Linked DNA regions of Homo sapiens. The protein of the gene in region 2 purifies or fractionates together with the protein of the main gene of each other region. This does not show direct contact. Each region holds a gene or a part of one and is shown on either strand. Other genes may lie near its edges.

What was found.
Region 1: the proteins of GDPD1 (region 2) and AHSG purify together in Homo sapiens (affinity purification with mass spectrometry; 3 studies listed by BioGRID and IntAct, with this or other methods). This does not show direct contact.
Region 3: the proteins of GDPD1 (region 2) and KNG1 purify together in Homo sapiens (affinity purification with mass spectrometry; 3 studies listed by BioGRID and IntAct, with this or other methods). This does not show direct contact.

The regions. Positions count from the first base shown.
Region 1 is NC_000003.12:186,615,961-186,619,714, reverse strand, and holds part of AHSG (alpha-2-HS-glycoprotein isoform 2 preproprotein), read right to left. Parts: intron 3,273-3,754; coding exon 3,188-3,272; intron 2,532-3,187; coding exon of another isoform or gene 2,529-2,531; coding exon 2,365-2,528; intron 1,180-2,364; coding exon 1,078-1,179; intron 1-1,077. UniProt on the Homo sapiens protein: Promotes endocytosis, possesses opsonic properties and influences the mineral phase of bone. Shows affinity for calcium and barium ions.
Region 2 is NC_000017.11:59,223,392-59,227,145, forward strand, and holds part of GDPD1 (lysophospholipase D GDPD1), read left to right. Parts: intron 1-3,754. UniProt on the Homo sapiens protein: Hydrolyzes lysoglycerophospholipids to produce lysophosphatidic acid (LPA) and the corresponding amines. Shows a preference for 1-O-alkyl-sn-glycero-3-phosphocholine (lyso-PAF), lysophosphatidylethanolamine (lyso-PE) and lysophosphatidylcholine (lyso-PC).
Region 3 is NC_000003.12:186,727,302-186,731,055, reverse strand, and holds part of KNG1 (kininogen-1 isoform 1 precursor), read right to left. Parts: coding exon 3,712-3,754; intron 1-3,711. UniProt on the Homo sapiens protein: Kininogens are inhibitors of thiol proteases.

The DNA.
Region 1 (3,754 bases), on a different chromosome or scaffold from region 2:
TATATATAACATGGAAATACAGAAATACTTTGAGAGTGAGAGAGATTACCCATAATCCCTTTCTGGTGGTGGCCTAGAAAGAAGGACTGTTAACATTGATGCATTTCTTTCTTATTTTAAAATACTATTAAATATGATTTAAAAATTGAGATCATTGTGACTATACGATGTTGTATCCTGTGTGTTTTCACTTGCCATAATAGCATTTTCTCATATCATTCATTATTCCTTGAAAACACAATTTTTAGTGTCTGCACAATTTTCTATTTACTGATGTGCATGGATTATTCAATGACACCTTCCTGTTGGACATACAGATCTCTCTTTTTTGGTCTCTTTATATCCATAATAAATCATTTTTATAGATATATTCTGTCAAATGTCACTGATGAATTCTTTTTCTTTTTCTTTTTTTCTTGAGACAGAGTCTCGTTCTGTTGCCCAGGCTGGAGTGCAGTGGCACGATCTTAGTTTACTGCAACATCTGCCTCCTGGGTTCACACCATTCTCCTGCCTCAGCCTCCCGAGTAGCTGGGACTACAGGCGCTCACCACCAAGCCTGGCTAATTTTTTTGTATTTTTAGTAGAGACGGGGTTTCACCATGTTAGCCAGGATGGTCTCGATCTCCTGACCTCCCGATCCACCCGTCTTGGCCTCCCAAAGTGCTGGAATTACAGGCATGAGCCATCATGCCTGGCCACTGATGACTTCTTTAGACTAAAATCCTAGAAGTGTACATTATTGGCTCAAGGACTTGAAAGCTTTTGTATCAGAGTTATATGTCTAGAAAATGTGCACTTCACATTCCCAGTGGGTGGGCGTGACTTGGCTTCATTAGCAAATAGCCTCTCTCTTTCTCCTAACTTCATGTGCTTCCAGTGGGTGAGATGATTTGATGACAGCTCTTAAAGGGATGAGGTGACACCCTAAAAGAAGGCTTGCCGTGATCCACAGGGAGAGGGGATTTGCACTGTTATTCTCTGTCTGCAGCCCCAAGATACAAACTATCCAAGGATGTTCTGTTCCACAAACAGCTCTGTCCGAGTGGTAACACCCCAAGGTCCCGGCCCACTCACCTTTTCTGCCAGCAGGTTACACTTGGCTGCCTCTGTGGCCTCTTTAGCAACACAGTCAGTGCCAGACACTGTAAACTCCACATAGGTAGAAGGTGGGAGGGGCTGAGAAGAGTACATGAAAATGCTCTTGAGGAAAGATGACTTACAATGAAAAGGGCAGAGAAGGAGAGCGGGAAGTAGCCTCCTTCGGGGAGCACCATTCATGCAGACCATGCGTCGGCCCAGAAGACATGTCCCTCAATGGCTTACATAGGGCAGTTGCTATGGGGTTGTGTTCTCAAGTGCTTGTGCTTTAGAGGTAGGGGTTGTGTCTTCCTTGTAGGAGGGGCAAGTATCCATCACCGGTCCTTCAGGGTGGAGGTGAGTTTGCAGATAGGAAACCGGAATCAGAAGGCCAGCATTAGACTGATAGGAGTGGGAACCCTGCCTCCCCCCAGCCCTCACTCTTGGGCTGCACTTGATACCCAAGGTTCAGGTTATTCCAAAATAGGGTGGGAAAGTGAAGAGATTAATACCTCTTCCACCTGTTTCATAGAGCAGGCTCAAATGAAAAGATTTAGATGAAAGTATGGAAGATATCACTTGAGCTTTTCTTTTTTAAAGTAGTTGGAGCATATGGACACAATAAAATATCTGTTATTTGGTGTAGTCTGGGGTGGGGATGTTCTGAGAATCACATATTCTGATTAATAGAATTGCCGTCTATACTAGCGTATTTCCAAGTATGGCCATGGCTGATATCCAGAATACATTTTCTTAAACATTTGAATTCTGTTGAATTCCAATGTGCTAAACCACCCACAGTACAATGAGATGTTTTCTCCAGTGACTCGAAAGGCATTTTAAGATCTTGCCATTATAAGCTTGTCAGCACAAGTGAGTATTAATTACGAGTCTGTGGCAGATGTTCAGCGGAGATGGGTGGTACTGGAGCCCAGCAAATTTACAGTGAGTGCTTCTGGCCGACGTGGGCAACTCTACCAGCTGACACTGAGCTTTGGTTTTAGCTGGAACGGAGGGAGTGGGGATGTACCTGCCGGCAGCTGTGGCTGCTGGACGTTACAGTGGCTCAGCATGGGGGAGGCGCTGAGGGTGTTGGGGTCCTCATGACACTCAGGAGCCTCATACCCCCTTAGGATGCTTTCTTCCCTTTCCAAACAACCCTCTCCTTGCTTTCTCATCGCTGCCCCTGCGCCTGTTCTTCCCTGCCTCCCGCTCCACCACGTACAGTACATTCCCGAAGTGCCACCGAACTGCCCAACCTGTCAAAAGAATCTCAGTCTTTACCACAAGCTGAGCCCGGGAAATTTCCTCCAGCTGAAAATTGGAGCCGTTGTTCTGAGCGTTGAAGGCGGCCAGGGCAGCTTTCGCGGCGTGCACCACCCTGGTGTCGTTCAGCGGGGCCAGCAGGGGGCAGTCTTGGCACACCTTGCGCACGTCCTCGGCTGAGTCTGCTCGGAGAGAGGAAACCAGGATGTGGGCAGCCATTCTCCCTGGCATGGCCCCAGCTCTGCTGCGTTAGCAAGGGCTAAGGCATTCCCCAGATAGCTTCAGGCACTTTCTCTGCTTCTTACTAAACCTTCAAAAGGCTTTTGCTATGCTGACATTTCTGCAGGAGCTCTTATCATCACGAGGCAATTTTCACTTCCAGTAAGAATAACTTCTTATTTTTTTGAGACAGGGTCTCACTCTGTGTCACTCAGGCTGGAGTGCAGTGGTGCGATCTCGGCCCACTGCCACCTCTGCCTCCCAGGTTCAAGCGATTCTCCTGCCTCAGCCTCCCTAGTAGCTGGGATTACAGGCGAGCACCACCACATTTTTGTATTTTTAGTAGAGATGGGGGTTTCACTATGTTGGCCAGGCTGGTCTCGAACTTCTGACTTCAGGTGATCCACCTGCCTCGGGTGGGTGGATTACAGGCGTGAGCCACCGCACCAGGCCAAGAGTAGCTTCTTAAAACACAATTTTAAAAATCCCAGAACCCAGGAAATTTGGCTTCTCCTTTTCCTCACCGACAAAGCTGCTAGAACTACTTAAGTTGAAAATTATTCAGATCCCTTCCCCACTTTCTCTACAAGGAAAAAATGAGAATAAGAATAGTCATCTGTACCTGGACTGGAATCACATTTTGCGTATACCACGGAAAACTTGCCATCTAGTTTCAACAGCTGGAAATCACAGTCTCCTTCGACAGCCTGGAGAAAGAAACCCACGTGAGGATGGCTGCCCTTCCCCTTCGCACCCCGGGCAGGCTCCCTCCAGGCACGGCTGTCAAAGGTGACCCTTGCAAAATCGCCTTTGCTGGGTAATACTGAAACATGGCACTCTCTGCTTTCAGGGATACAACGATATAGTTAAACGCTTGTAAAAATCAGCCCCAGGGCAAGTGGCATCAAATGGCAATTTTATTTATGATGATGATTATTATTATTATTATTTCGAGATAGAGATTCACTGTTGTTGCCCAGGCTGGAGTGCAATGGCAGGATCTTGGCTCACTGCAACCTCCACCTCCCGGGTTCAAGCGATTCTCCTGCCTCAGCCTCCCGAGGAGCTGGGATTTACAGGTGCCCGTCACCACGTCCAGCTAATTTTTGTATTTTTAGTAGAGATGGGGTTTCACCATACTGGCCAGGCTGGTCTTGAACTCCTGACCTCAGGCGATCCACTTGCCTCA
Region 2 (3,754 bases):
ACTCAATACTCCAGTTGAATCCAGAGTGATAGAGGAGATAAAACACTTTGTAATTCAAGATACTACGTCTCTGGAAAATAAGAGACAATGTAACTAGGAAGGAATCACTCCATTGATTGCCTTTAATTTTTGTCTTCGACACGGATAATAGCAATCACTGGTCTCTCTGTGCAATTTGGGCTTATTCTCTACTGCCATAACTGCAAATACCTGATATTTACTTATTTTTCCCTATAAGTAAGGAAACAGTGATATTTCTTGTAAATTAGATATGTGACCATTGAAACATTAATCATGTTATGTGTATAAAGTATATGCAACTGAATTGACATAACCTAAAACTTGAATATCTACTCTATTTCTAGAATATTATGTCTACTGCAAAAACACATGTCTGTAATCCCAGCTATTCAAGAGGCCGAGGCAGGAGAATCACTTGAACCTGGGAGGCGGAGGTTGCAGTGAGCCGAGATGGTGCCACTGCACTCCAGCTCAGGCGACAGTGCGAGACTCCGTCAGGGCACTCCGAGGGGTTGAATCACAGATGGACAGATGGCTCTTTCTCTCTCCACCTTTTTTTTGAGACAAGTTCTCACTCTGTCACCCAGGCTGGAGGGCAGTGATGCAATCACTGCCATCATGATGAGCTTGACATCATTTAATTCTTAAAGACTTTCCTAATGAACTCAGATGTTAACAAATGTGATTTTTAAAATATTGCATACCGTGTCAACATATAGAAGACCAGCATGATTCAATGAATCAATAGTTTCCAAATGATTTATGCATGCTATTATAAAATCATGCATGGGTGAAAGATCATTCAAAGTTCAAGATGGGCCAATGGATTTTCACATAATAGAGTATGAAGTGATTACTCATATGGTTCAAATTCCATATTGCAATGACCTTTTAAGAAACTACCACTTGTAAGAAACTACCACTTGTGGGCCGAGCAAGGTGGCTCATGCCTATAATCCCAGCACTTTGGGAGGCCGAAGCGGGCGGATCACGGAGTCAGGAAATCGAGACCATCCTGGCTAACGATGGTGAAACACCGTCGCTACTAAAAATACAAAAAAAGTTAGCTGAGCGTGGTGGCGGGCGCCTGTAGTCCCAGCTACTCAGGAGGCTGAGGCAGGAGAATGGCGTGAACCCGGGAGGCGGAGCTGGCAGTGAGCCGAGATCGCGCCACTGCACTCCAGCCTGGGCGACAGGGCGAGACTCCATCTCAAAAAAAAAAAAAAACAAAAAACAAAAACAAAAAAAACTACGACTTGTTGAGCCGGGTGTGATGGTGCCTACCTGTAGTCTCGGCTATTTGAGAGGCTGAGGCAGGAGGATCACTTGAGCCCAGGAATTTGAGGTTGTTGCTATGATCGTGCCTGTGAATAGCCGCTGAACTTCAGCTTGGGCGACATAGCAAGACCCTGTCTGTAAAGTAAACAAATTACCACTTATTGAAATTTGATGCCATATCAAAGAAGACTCATTTCCAACTACATATCTGTGTGACAATGGGTATATATGAAGCAGATATGAGAATCTTGCTGCTTTCTGTTAAGTCAGATATTAAAGAGATTTGCAAAAATATAAAACAATACCACTCTTTTCATACATTATTTTATTTAGAAAAACAGTTACTTTTCATAAAAATGTTATTTTAACATATAATGTGTTTATTATTTTCTTTCTTTTCTTTTTTTTTTTTTTTTTTTGAGATGGAATCTTGCTCTGTTGCCCAGGCTGGAGTCCAGTGGTATGATCTCGGCTCACTGCAACCTCCACCTCCCAGGTTCAAGTAATCCTGGTGCCTCAGCCTCCTGAATAGCTGGGGTTACAGGTGGTGCCACCACGCCCAGCTAATTTTTATTTTTTATTTTTTGTATTTTTAGTAGAGATGGGTTTTTGCCATGTTGCCCAGGCTAGTCTCGATCTCCTGAGCTCAGGCAATTAGCCTGCCTCACCTCCCATAGTGCTAGGATTACAGGCATGAGCCACCACACCTGGCCTATTTTCAAAGCAAGGTAGTTAAAAGGATGCAGAAATCAGCTTGAAGGAACTAATGAAGTTGACTTTGATCACTTGATGAGGTGGTGTCTGCCAAGCTTTTCCACTGTGAGGTTACTTTTTCTCCTTATAATTAATAAGAGAAAAGGCTCATAATTAATAAGAGGCCACCCACCGCGGCCTCCCAAAGTGCTGGGATTACAGGCATGAGCCACTGTGCTCGGCCAATTTTTGGAGGGAGATACTTTAAAACTACACAAATACCCAATTCCTTAACAAATTATCAATCCATTTATTAAAATTGATTCAAAATTTATTTTATTTTATTATTATTTTTTGAGACGAAGTCTTGCTTAGTCTCCCAGGCTGGAGTGCAGTGGTGGGATCTTAGCTCACAGCAACTTCCACCTCTAGGGTTCAAGTGATTCTCCTGCCTCTGCCTCCCAAGTAGCTGAGACTACAGGTACCTACCACCATGCCCGGCTAATTTTTGTACTTTTAGTAGAGATGGGGTTCACCATGTTGGCCAGGCTGGTCTCAAACTCCTGACCTCAGATGATCCACCAGCTTCTGCCTCTCAAAGTGCTGGGATTACAGGCATGAGCCACCGTGCCCAGCCTGGATTCAGAATTTCTTATTCACTGATTTAAAAATCTGTTTACTATCATTATTTTGATGCTAGCACTGTCCCAGATTTGTCCAGTGAGAGGTCCTTCAAGCTGGCTTTTGTGTTCTTTTAATTTCTTTGCTCTTTGGTACAAGTGGTCAGTAGTTTAACTTAACTTACTGGTAACCCCTTTAGCACTCTTGTCTTTTTAGAAATATTTTGTGGTGCTTTGTTTTTGAATATTATCTGAATATAATGTATTTCCATAGTTTTAGATCAAAACAAGGGCCAACTAGCCTCATCCAGTAAAGGGTTATCTAACCTTGAAAGGAGACTTAAAAAAAAAAACCTATACCCTTCATATTTACTGCATCTGTTTTCTATCATGCATCAACTCTAGTAACCAAGTGAACCTAAAATCAAACTAGTAGTTTTTTGTTTTTACGTGGGTATCTTCCCTCTGCTAAAGTTATAAAATTTTAGCATATTAAAGCTAATGTATTTGTTTCTGCATATCTTGTATTTCTGTTGATTATTAATTAGGTCATCATAAAAATACAACCTAACAATATAAAAGAAGAAAAATTTAATACAAATATGTTCAGATGGTATTGTATATAAAACATTTTAATGCTAATACTTAAGTCCTTTAGGTACTTTGAGCAGTACCTTTTGTGTGTGTGTGTGATGGAGTTTTGATGTTGTTGCCCAGGCTGGAATGCAGTGGCGCGATCTCAGCTCACTGCAACTTCCGCCCCCTGGGTTCAATCAATTCTCTGTCTCAGCCTCCCGAGTAGTTGGAATTACAGGCATCTGCCACCATACCCAGCTAATTTTTTTTTTTGTATTTTTAGTAGAGACGGGGTTTCACCATGTTGGCCAGGCTGGTCTTGAACTCCTGACCTCAGGTGATCCACCTACCTCGGCCTCCCAATGTGTGGGGATTACAGGCATGAACCACCGCGCCCACCCTGAGCAGTACCTTTTTATTGAGAGTTTATTGAATTGTCTCTTTCTATTAAGAAGAAATTGACTGTTTTTCCAAAGTGTATGGAAAATTATTTCCAAAGTATTTTTCTGTATATTTCATCAATTATTTGGTAACACTGAAATGTTTTAGTTTTAAAACATTTTAAG
Region 3 (3,754 bases), on a different chromosome or scaffold from region 2:
AATGATCATTTTATTTTTCAAAAGCATAGACCAGAAGGCATGGAATCAAAATACCTAAAGTAGAAAAAATTACACGTGAATAGAAATGGATAGAAATAATATGGTGGGAAAATTTAGTATGCAATTACAAATCTAAGACAGGGCAAGTGAATAAAAAATAAACAAGAACATAGAAGATTTGAATAACATATTAAAGATTTATTTAAATGGTATTTTCATATGCTACATATGATTTTAAATGATACTTTCATAAGTATCATACTAATTTGTATGTATTTGTGTGTGTGTATATATATATGTGTATATATATATGTGTATATATATATGTGTGTGTGTGTGTATATATATATATATATATATATATATATATATTTTTTTTTTTTTTTTTTTTTTTTTTTTTGTGATGGAGTCTCTCTTTGTCGCCAAGGCTGGAGTGCAGTGGCGCAATCTCAGCTCACTGCAACCTCTGCCTCCTGGATTCAAGTGATTCTCCTGCCTCAGCCTCCCAAGTGTCTGGGATTACAGGCGTCTGCCACCACACCCGGCTAATTTTTTTGTATTTTTAGTAGAGATGAGGTTTTGCCATGTTGGCCAGGCTGATCTCGAACTCCTGATCTCAAGTGATCCACCCACCAAAATGCTGGGATTACAGGCATGAGCTACCGTGCCCGGCCAGTATCATACAAATATTTTTAATTGTTTTTACACCAGGTCACAAAAAGATCCAATACATTTTACAAAGCAGAAACAATACAGGGTATGTTCTTTCACCTCAGCACCAAAAAGAAAAAATAATCTCTAAAAATTCATAACATGTTTAAACAAACAAAAACAATATACTTGGAAATATAAACATGCTTGCCAATAAAGTTAGGGTCTTTCTTGGATAAGGAAAAAAAAAACAAAATAACAAAAATGAGAATTCCATATAATGTTATTAGAACAGCATTCTAAGTTAATTTTTGACTCGACATGATTTCATAATTTAAAAACAGAGGGAGAAAAACAAATAGAACAAACAAATAGAACAAACAAATAGAAAGACCTATGCCTAGGTCTCCAGAAGTGAGGGGAAAAAAGAATAATAAACAAACATAGCCAGGTGCTGTGTGATAAGTCACTTTGGGAGGCTGAGGCAGGCGGATCACCTGAGGTTGGGAGTTCGAGACCAGCCTGACCAACATGGAGAAACCTCATCTCTACTAAAAATACAAAACTAGCCGGCCGTGGTGGCACATGCCTGTAATCCCAGCTACTCGGGAAGCTGAGGCAGGAGAATCACTTGAACCCGGGAGGCGGAGGTTGCAGTGAGCCAAGATCGCGCTATTGCACTCCAGCCTGGGCAACAAGACCAAAACTCAGTCTCAAAAAAAAAAAGAAAAGCCTACATTACATTTCTAGCAACTCCAATAGTCTCTGACTGAATTTGCCTATTCTAGGTGTTTTATATAAGTGGAATCATACAATATTTTTTGTGTGTGTCTGGCTTATTTCACTTAACATAATATTTTCAAGCTTCATCCACATTGTAGCATGTATCAGAATTTCATTCTTTTTAAAGGGTGAACAGTGTTTCATTGTGTATATATAATAGCACATTTTGTTTATCCATTCACCTATTGATAGACACTTGGGTTGTTTTGACTTTCTGGCTATTATGAATTTTGCTGCTATAGAAATTCATGTATAAACACGTGTTTGAATATGCATTTCCAGTTCTTTTGGGCATATACCTAAGAGTGCAACTTCTGGGTCACATAGTAATTCTATAGTTAAGTTTTTCAGAAATTGCCAAATTATTTTCTATAATGGCTGCAGCATTTTACAGTCCTACCAGCAATGTACAAAAGTTCTAATTTCTCCATGCCCTTTCTAATACTTGTTATTTTATGAACAAAAAGAGGTTCTTTATATATTCTGCATGTTAAACTCTTATCAGATACATGATTTGCAAATATTTTCTCTCATTCTGTGGGTTGTATTTTTACTCTCTTGATAGTGTCCTTTTTACTTTTTTCTCCAATTATAAAATAAATGCATGCTCAATTAGAAAACTCGGGAAATATCAAAAACTTCCAAAAAATATAAAGAATCAGAAAAAGCGGCCGGATGCAGTGGCTTACACCTGTAATACCAGCACTTTGGAAGGCCAAGGTGGGTGGATCACCTGAGATCAAGAATTCGAAAACAGCCTGGCCAACGTGGCAAAACCCCCATCTGTACCCAAAATACAAAAATTAGCCTGGCGTTGCAGCGGGCGCCTGTAATCCCAGCTACTCAGGGAGGCTGAGGCATGAGAATTGCTTAAACCTGGGAGGCAGAGGTTGCAGTGAGCCGAGATCGCACCACTGCACTCCAGCCAAGGTGACAGAGCAAGACCTCTTCTCAAAAAAGAAAAAGCACCCACAATTCCAACTGAAAGTTAACTACATTCTATATTTTGTCATAATTTGTTTTCCATCACTTTTTGTATTTACATTTATTTTACATATTTAAATAAATCCGTATGTATAGTTTTGTATCCCACTTTTTTTGTTTTTTACTTAACATTGTAACCGTTTTACTATGTCACTAAAAACTAAAAATTTTTGATAGCTGTATCATATTCTACTGTATGGATATACTGTAATTTACTTAACCATTCTGTAATGTTGCATAAACTATTTGTTTACAATATTTTTCTATTAAAAAACAACTGACATTAACATCTTATGGTCTGGATTTCCCATATAAATGAATTAGAAGCAGAATTACTAGATCAAAGGACTTGCAGCATTTCCTTGGCTAAAGCACAGTCTTCTGCTCAAATGCAAACATCCCTGGGCACATATCATGTCTTCGCCATCTTAACATTCGCTAGCTACTACTACCTTGAGATATACCATTTTAATATAATTTTGGTTCAGATAACAAGATACGATGCTAAGAAGGACCACTAAGGGCTAGAGACTCAGGGTCTGTTTATTAAAGATAAAGGTAGGGAAGGGAAGATGAGAAAACAAACAGAGAAAAGTTTGACATGAAGAATAACCCTGGGTAGAGCAAGGGAACACCATATGGGCATTGAGCACCTGGGGAAGAAAAGGAAATGGGAAAGTGTGGAGACATAACAAAGATACAGTTGACCGTTCAAGCATTTTATCTATTCGTAGTCCCTGGTTATGCTCTGTAAATACTTATTGCTGGCCAGGCACGGTGGCTCATGCCTGTAATACCAGCACTTTAGGAGGCCAAGGTGGGCGGATCACCTGAGGTCAGGAGTTCGAGACCACTCTGGCTAACACGGTAAAACCCTGTCTCTACTATAAATACAAAAATTAGCCATGCGTGGTGGTTGGCGCCTGTAGTCCTAGCTACTTGGGAGGCTGAGGCAGGAGAATAGCTTGAACATGCGAGGTGGAGGCTGCAGTGAGATGAGATCACACCACTGTGCTCCAGCCTGGGGAACAGATTGAGATCCTGTCTCAAAAAATAAATAAAATAAAATAAAGTTATAAAAAAATACTTATTGCTAGCTGTGCAGATTCTTTGGCCAGTTAGGTAAGGCAGCTTGACCAGTGACGTGAGCTTTAGTCTTCCCAAGTAAATGTGAATATGAATTGCTGAATGTCATCTAAACTTTTCGTGACAGTCTTCCCACCCAGCTTGATAGTTACCACAAAATGTAAACAAAATGCTAAGAACTTTATCATTAAATTTTTGCCTACTTACACCATTCCAAAGGGACTTGCAGTCTGGAGTTAAGAACAGAAAA